Linked DNA regions of Homo sapiens: regions 1 and 3 are each linked to region 2. The links come from fine-mapping of genetic effects on gene expression. A gene starts in region 2. Each other region holds a variant in brackets. All regions are shown on one strand. Distances are between the middles of the regions.

Region 1 (2,755 bases), 110 kb before region 2:
CCCTTATCCGGAATTAGAGACTGTGTCCTTTGCAGCCCAGGCCCACCCCACGGCGTGGTGCACAGCAGCCGTATCATCTATGTATGTTGCATGGATGAAAGTGCCTGAGTTCGAATTCTGGCTCAGTCACCTGCCGAGGTGGGGCTTGTTATCTGATCCCCGAAAATGGGGTAACAATCCTGCCTGCCTCTCGGGCCTCTGAGAGCACTGAGCACATCCAGAGTGGCCAGGGCACCGGAAAGTGGCCCGGCCCCACCTGCTCTTGGCTTCCCCGAGGAGGAGGGAGCCCGGCCCCACCTGCGCTTGGCTTCCCCGAGGAGGAGGGAGCCCAGGGCCAGGCCCATGTTGCTAACAGGTTCCAGCTGCAAAGTCTGCTGTACAGCCAGCCCTGGACTCGTCGCTGGCCCGGCCATCTCCCCTGCCCACTGCGGAGAGGTTTCTGCTGTCGTGGTGGCCGGCAAGCCTCAGCAAACACATTAAAATCTGAAGTGACAGATAAAGCGATTTACGGCGACAGTTCAGCGTCAGATCACTTCCCACAAGGCAGTCCGCATCCCTGCGGGGCCCCTGCTTGGTAGTCCATCAAGGCGGTCTCTAAATCACTGACTCCAAGCAGTGCCCAGGGACAGCCGGACGCAGGGGCGGGTGGCCGCTCAGGTGGCCACTCAGGTTCTGGCCTGCTCCTTCTCACCAGGCCAGGCTCTGCTGGGCCCTCCAGGCGGCAGGAGAGGATGAGGCAGGGGCTGCCGGTGCTTGGGAGGAGGGCGGTGATAAGCGGCCAGCAGATTCTCACAAATCAAAGCCCCAAGACTTAAGGAGATAGAGCGCCACTTCATGACTTATTTTAAATAAATAAGCGGCTTAAAAATCTCCCTGCGAGGTCGGCTTGTCGCTGTGAAACATGGCTTCCCACCCGTCCCCGCCGCACACCTGGGCCCCTCAAAGGCTAGCTGACCCGCCTCGCCTCCCGCCACCTCCTTGCAGAATTAATTGGTCCCTGCGGCGTTGCGTGGCACTTTGTTCAGACCTTGCTCCTAGCACTTTGTCACATTATACTCTGCTTAGTAGCTCTCGCTCCTGACTTCCCAGTAATCATTTCCTGGGGACTCTCCGTGTGCCAGGCCCTGGGCCCAGGGCTGGACAGGCCTGAACTCCTGTCCTCCTCACCCCTGCCCTTCGGTGGAACTGATGCTGATGCCATTTCTCAGATGAGGAAGTAGAGGCCACGGAGTGGCCAGCAGGGGTGCTGGGACCCTGACCTGCTCCTGGCCACGGTGCGCACAGCCCATGCTCA[C/T]TGCTCTGGGCTGGCATTGAAACAAAAGATCCCTTCCATCTTTGCACAAAGCCTTTCATCCATCTCTGCCCTGTCCTCTTATGACATGAAGGCCAAAGCCAGGCAGCTGGACCCCTGGGTTGGCCAAGAATGGGGATTTTTCTTTTTTTTTGAGATGGAATCTTGCTCTGTCACCCAGCAACCAGGATGGAGTGCAGTGGCACAATCTCGGCTCACCGCAACCTCCACCTCCCAGGTTCAAGCAATTCTTCTGCCGCAGCCTCCTGACTAGCTGGGACTACAGGCGCATGCCACTGTGTCCGGCTAATTTTTGTATTTTTAGTAGAGACCAGGTTTCACCATGTTGGCCAGGCTGCTCTCAAACTCCTGACCTCAAGCGATCCGCCCGCCTCGGCCTCCCAAAGTGCTAGGATAACAGGCGTGAGCCACCGTGCCTGGCCAAGAATGGGGATCTTTCTTTGTGCCCGGACATGTCCTGCCCAGGACTCTGCTATCTGTCAGGAACAAGAAGTCCACACACACAGGTCTGGTGCACCAGGAAACTCAAGGGCAGGGAGGTGGCCTAGTCAAGGTCACTGCACCCCCGTGGTAAAAAGGAGACATAAACACCCTGGCAGCCACAGCACCCCCTAGTGGATACCCTGAGACCGGCGCTCTCCCCAGACACAGGACTGAGGTCATAGGCAAGGCTGGAGAGGCAGGCACCGGCTCTGAGAACCTCCTCCTCCAGAAGAGGGGGCCTGCGGGGGCTCCCTGGCTTATCTCCTGCACATGGCAGCCCAATTTCATTAAGACGGATGCGCCATGCTCCTGTGGGCAGGAGCCGTGGCCGACACAGATGGCAGGAACCTGAGACTCTCCCGGGTGCTACCCAAGCAAGTGGCCTCAGCTGGCAGCCCACGGGGACAGGGCCCAGGGAGGCCTGCACTGTGCCTGAGGGTGTGGGGGTTTGTTCCGTCCCTGCAACTTCAAGCCCTGCCACCCGCCAGCCAGGCATCCCCACTTCTATGCTTCTGCCCAACCTCCCACCTCACTCCCACCACATCCCATACAAACACACATCACACCACACACACCCTCCATCACCCACACCCCATGCATCACACAAGCACAGACACACACACATCACGCACACACACGCATCACACACATCATACAAATGCATACGCACACCCCACACACATAGGCCAAACTCCTGACCTCACACACACACTCTATCACACACACCCCACGCATCACACAAGCACAGACACAAACATGCTACATCACAAACACACGCACCGCACACATCACACACACAGGCCAAACTCCTGACCTCACACACACACCATCACACACATCCCAATCACATCTCATAGCCCAATAATGTAAGAGTGGAAACCAGTCCTGAATTTCAAATGCCAGGAGATCAGTAGGGAAACAGAATCTGATTTTCTTATTTTTATTTGTTTTTTGAGACAG
Region 2 (2,755 bases):
GGGCCCACAGCTCAGATCCCCTAAGCTCAGGCCTTGGCTCCAGGCTTTGCTAGCCCTGGCACAAGCTGGAGGTTCCACTGCCCCAGAGCTGACCTATGCCCTTTCCTCCCTCCCTGGTATACCCACAGCTTCCAGCTACTCATGTCAATTTGGCATCTCCCACCCATTTGCTTATGTATACAACAACCTTTAGGTTCTGGACAAGGTGACTGAGGCACCTAGAGAGACTAGGTTCTGCCACTAGCAAGAGGCTGCTAGCAAGAGCCGGATTTGAACTCCAGCCTGTGAGGGCAGAGGCCAAGCTCCACCTTGCATGGTTCTGTTTTCCCAATGAGGTCTAGAGGCTCCTGGGCCTCAGGAAGTCGGAGGGTTGAAATCCTCCTAAGAAGCTGTGTGACCTTGGGCAAGTCCCTTCCCCTCTCTGGGCCTCAAGTGGAGATCATAATCACACCCCACAGGGCCAGGGCTGAGAGCGAGGAGATCCGCCAGGTTAGAGTTGATGGAGAACTTGGCGGGGTGTGGAGGAAGGCCAGGGCCAGGCAGGGCTCCTTGTGGAGGTCTCAGAGCCTGGGGCAAAGGGGCCTGCAGGGGAGCTCCTCCTTTGCTGACCCCTCCTCCCCCAGAGCCAGCTGCATCTCTTTCTGGGTTTCTAGGTGACTTGGCTGGCCCCTCTGGATGAGTTCTACTTTAAACCTGCTGCTGTTACTGCCTCTGTATTGGGGGGGCTCCCACAGGGGCCCCCAGGCAGGAACCCCCCCCACCAGCTAAGCCCTGCGGGAGGGGCTGCAGCCCCCACCCATCCCATTGCCCATGCGCCTTCCCCGCTCCCATCTCTGGAACGCAGATTTCAGGGCACCTGCTGTGGGCCAGGCACTGCAGAGCCCCTCCTCAACCCTCCTGTCTGGGGACATCCACAAAGCTTCTGACCCCTCTGGGCAGACAACAGCGTTCCCCCCGCGGTTCCCAGCCAAGAGGCTCACAGTCAGGTTCCAGTCATGGGAGTCTGCAGCAACAAGAAGGGGGCTGTTCTAGGGCTCACTCTCGAAGACCAGGATGCTTGGGTCCTTAAAGGAGGTGGCAGGCGCCCGGCCTCCCTGGGCTAGGGACGGGGGAGGGGTGCCTGCCGGCGGGAGGTCCATTAGCCGGCTAAGTGCTCCCAGGGAGGGGGGACCGCGCGGCATAAGAGTGGGTGAGGCGAAGCCAGGGCAGAGGGGGGCGGAAGAAGCTTTTCCTGCATTCAGCTAAGTGCGGCAGAAGAGGGTGGGCGACAGGGCTGTGCAGCGACCCCCCGGCCCAAGTCTAGCCCTCCGCTGGTACTGCAGCCCTAGTCGCTCGGAAACCTCAGTGGGCTGATCCCGGACCGCCTTAAGCAGCGCCCTCTACACCCAGTCCCTCCAGCTGCTCCCCAACAGCCACTTCGGCCCCCAGCGCCCTCCTTCCACCACAGGCCTGAAGAATCAGGTTCTGCTGAGCCCCGCAGCAAAGCCCCCGACCCGTCCGCGTGCCCCTGCCCCAATCCCCGCTCCGGCTGCAGTCGCCGCCCCGGCCGCCAGGGGGAGCCGACGCGGTGGGAGGGGGCGGGGCCCGGGAGGCCCCGCCCCGTCCCCGCCCCGCCCGGGCCCCGCCGAGGCTCTGGTCGGTCCGGGACAGACTGGCGGGCGGGCGGGCACTGACGCCGCGGGGCCGGAGCGGGCCGCGCGGTGGGAGCAGCGGCGCCGTCGGTCCCCGTCAGGGCTCCGTGGGTCCCCGACCCGCCCCTGGCCGGGCCATGGCGGGCGCCCAGCCCGGCGTCCACGCGCTGCAGTTGGAGCCGCCCACCGTGGTGGAGACCCTGCGGCGCGGGAGTAAGTTCATCAAATGGGACGAGGTAAGCGCGCGGGCCCCTGCTCCGCCCAAATCCCGGGACTCTTTCAGTCAAGCTCGACCAGACGCTGGGGACCCCCACCCCAGCCTCGCCTGCCCGTGGCGCCACCCTCATCCCAGTCTGGCGGCGCCCCGGAAACTTAAGTCCCCGATCGTCTCCGTAATGAAGACTTTGTCCCCCCAACTCCCAGTCCCTCAGCTCTGGAAAATTTGCCTCCACTCCTTGGCGCAGAGACTTTGAACCCCAATAAACCCCGTCCCCCCGTTTTCCATTCGTTCTTCCCACCGCTCCCTGCCAGACTAATTCTCGTTCCCCGATCCTGGCCTGGTGCCCAGACCCCTGCCCAGCACTAGACTCCCCGGCTGCAGGACCCTGACTTCCAGGCTGGCTGGGGGCATCCTCATTCTGGGTGTGTGCCAGGGCGCCCCTACTCTCCCCGGTGCCCTGCCTGAACAGTCCTCGTCCATTCATCATTTTTCCCCCTGTTCTGGTTGGCACCCCTTCGCCCTGCTTCTGGATCCCAGCCCAGCTCCCTGTTCAGATGGGAGCACCCAGTCACCCCCTAGTGGAGACTTTGCCCCCCAAGTTCCTCCACCCCTGGGAACTTTGCTCCCCACTCCTTAGGCTTGGGACCTTGAACCCCAATACATCCTGGCCCCCCTTTCCCTGTCCTGCCCCTGGTGCTTCCCAAATGCCTGTGTCCCCACCTTCGGCTGCCCATCCCCATCCTGGGTGCATCCTCTTCTGCCCCCTGGGCCCTTCCTTCCCTAGGGCCTCCACCCGGCCGGCCTGAGCTTCCTCGCAGCTCCTTCCCAGTCAGGCCACGGGCCTGGAAGACTCTGGGCTCTTTTCCGGCTGGGTGGGGCCCCGGGGTAGGCGTGGGAGCTGGGG
Region 3 (2,755 bases), 59 kb before region 2:
CTGGTCTCGAACTCCTGACCTCAGGTGATCTGCCCACCTTGGCCTCCCAAAGTGCTGGGATTACAGGCGTGAGCCACTGCACCCGGCAGCAGCTAATTTTTGTATTTGTAGTAGAGACGGGGTTTCACCATGTTGGCCAGGCTGGTCTCGAACTCCTGACCTCAGTTAATCTACCCGCCTCAGCTTCCCAAAGTGCTGAGATTACAGCCTAAAATCATTTCTCTTGACAAAACTATTTCTTGCATCAATTTACTGGGTCGTGGGTGGATAATACATAGAATGAGTTAGTAACTTCGGTGACAACTCTATCTCACAGAACGTTTACCTCTTAAAAGTGTATTTTGGCCTGGTGTGGTGGTTCACCTTTGGGAGACTGAGGCAGGAGGGTTGCTTTAGGCCAAGAGTTTGAGACAAGCCTGGGCAATATGGTGAGACACCATTTCTACCACAAAAAGAAAAAAACATTTAGCCAGGCATGGTGACACACACTTGTAGTCCCAGCTACTTAAAAGGCTGAGTTGGCCGGGCGCAGTGGCTCATACCAGTAATCCCAGCACTTTGGGAGGCCAAGGCAGGCAGATCACCTGAGGCCAGGAGTTCAAGACCAGCCTGACCAACATGGAGAAACCCCGTCTCTACTAAAAATACAAAATTAGACGGATGTGGTAGTGCGTGTCTGTAATCCCAGCTACTCAGGAGGCTGAGGCAGGAGAATCGCTTGAACCTGGGAGGCAGAGGTTGTGGTGAGGCAAGATTGTGCTATTGCACTCCAGCCTGGGCAACCAGAGTGAAACTCTGTCTCAAAAAAAAAAAAAAAAAAGGGCTGAGTCAGGAGGATTGCTTGAGCCCAGGAGCTCAAGGTTACAGTCAGCTGTGATCATGCCACTGCACTCCAGGCTGGTAACAGAGTGAGATGCCATCTTTAAAAAAAAATAAATATGGCCAGGCGCGGTGGCTCACGCCTGTAATCCCAGCACTTTGGGAGGCTGAGATGGGTGGATTAAGAGGTCAGGAGTTCGAGACCAGCCTGGCCAACATGGTGAAACTCCATCTCTACTAAAAATACAAAAATTAGCTGGGCGTGGTGGCGGGTGACTGTAATCCCAGCTACTCAGGAGGCTGAGGCAGGAGAATCGCTTGAACCTAGGAGGCGGAGGTTGCCGTGAGGCAAGATTGTGCCACTACACTCCAGTCTGGGGACAGAGCAAGACTCTGTCTCAAAAAATAATAATAATAAATACAATGAGCTTCTCAAGGGGTTGCCTGCCCTCAGGTAGGCTGCTGTGGGGCACCTGACCTTTTGTGGGGCAGCTCAGTAAGGAGAAACCCTTTAGTGAGGACACTGTTCTGACAGGGCCAAGGCCTGCCTCACTTTTTTTTTTTTTTTAATGAAAAAGTAAAATTTAATGTGGAAAATGCAAACTTGGGGAGGGCAGAAAGATCACACACAAGGCTGTCACTTCACACTTGGAGGGTTGCACAGTGGCCCAACAGAGGC[A/G]CACCTCACTTGCCAGACGGTGGGGCAGGTGGGCAGAGGTGCTCCTCTCTCCCCAGTCAGTTGGGTGGCCGGGCAGAGGCGCTCCTCACTTCCCAGTCGGTGGGGCGGCCAGGCAGAGCTGCCTCACTTTTTAAAACTGCTGTATCCCACCGGGCGCGGTGGCTCACACCTGTAATCCCAGCACTTTGGGAGGCCAAGGCGTGTGGATCACCTGAGGTCAGGAGTTTTAAGACCAGCCTGACCAATATGGTGAAACCCCGTCTCTACTAAAATTACAAAAATTAGCCAAGTGTGGGGGTGTGCGCCTGTAGTCCCAGCTACTTGGGAGGCTGAGGCAGGAGAATCGCTTGAACCTGGGAGGCGGAGGTTGCAGTGAGCCGAGATCGTGCCACTGCACTCCAGCCTGGGTGACAGAGTGAGACTCTGTCTCAAAAAACACAACAAAACAAAACCCCGCTGTATCCTTACTTCTTGCACTTTATATGTTTGAGAAGGGAGAGGTTTAAACCACAGTAGCATTTCTTCATCCTCCATCCCCTTTGTAATGTAATATTTAAGAATGGCAGGAATCAATTTGGGGAGCTAGCTTGACTGTTACCCATTAATGAACATTTATCTATCCTGTGGTGACATGTTGCCACACCAGGAAATGGAGACTGGTTCTTCCCTGATGGGAGGAGATGACAACTATGCCATAGGCAAGCATCTTGCCGCTCCCAAGAAAGAGAAGTCTCCGCTGCCATCCCACAGCCTTTGGGTCACTGGAGCATGTATCAGTGCCACTCCGCCCACCTTCTTCCTGTGAGGGGTGACTAGGGCTGTGCTCTGTTTGTCATTTGGATGCTTTGGAAATCTGTGGCAAATGAATTGACTTTTCCATGGAAGGAGCATGTGGCACATTCTGGAGTGGCTTCGTGAGCTCCATGTGGAGACCGGAAGAGTGGCAGAGCCCTCGTTCGTCACATGGGGGCCAGCGTGGAGTGCAGCCTGGGCTCTTTGCCCCTGCTTATTTTTTCTTTGCTGGCTCCTTAGGGAAGGTGTGAGAAATTAAATAAATGAACCGGTTTTCTCTCTTCTGATCTGTAAAGTCACCTATTTATTTGTTGGTAACTACATGAAAGAATGAGTGTTGTCTTTAAAGCTTGGGATTAAATGGGCACATCATAGAGAAGCTGTGTGTTCCTTTCCCCTCAGGTCAATGAGCTGAAGGAGAAAGGCAACAAGGCCCTGAGCGTGGGTAACATCGATGATGCCTTA

Evidence for each region.
Region 1: its variant is fine-mapped to the expression of PLCB3 in whole blood (INTERVAL, PIP above 0.99).
Region 3: its variant is fine-mapped to the expression of PLCB3 in whole blood (TOPMed, PIP 0.95).

The regions. Positions count from the first base shown.
Region 1 is chr11:64,144,336-64,147,090 of GRCh38, forward strand. All of the region lies in intron 3 of MACROD1 (mono-ADP ribosylhydrolase 1), which reads right to left. Among named protein-coding and RNA genes, the nearest start is that of MACROD1, 20 kb to the right of the region's middle. RefSeq lists an enhancer at 1,632-2,133. The variant C/T (reference allele first, on the strand shown) is at 1,295.
Region 2 is chr11:64,249,882-64,252,636 of GRCh38, forward strand. It overlaps PLCB3 (phospholipase C beta 3), which reads left to right and starts at 1,649. Exons shown (of 31, transcript NM_000932.5): 1 at 1,649-1,867. The coding sequence starts at 1,769. RefSeq lists enhancers at 1-441, 1,736-2,381, 2,382-2,755 and silencers at 1,461-1,930, 2,418-2,631.
Region 3 is chr11:64,190,386-64,193,140 of GRCh38, forward strand. STIP1 (stress induced phosphoprotein 1) reads left to right here. Exons shown (of 14, transcript NM_006819.3): 2 at 2,693-2,755. Among named protein-coding and RNA genes, the nearest start is that of STIP1, 5.6 kb to the left of the region's middle. The variant A/G (reference allele first, on the strand shown) is at 1,499.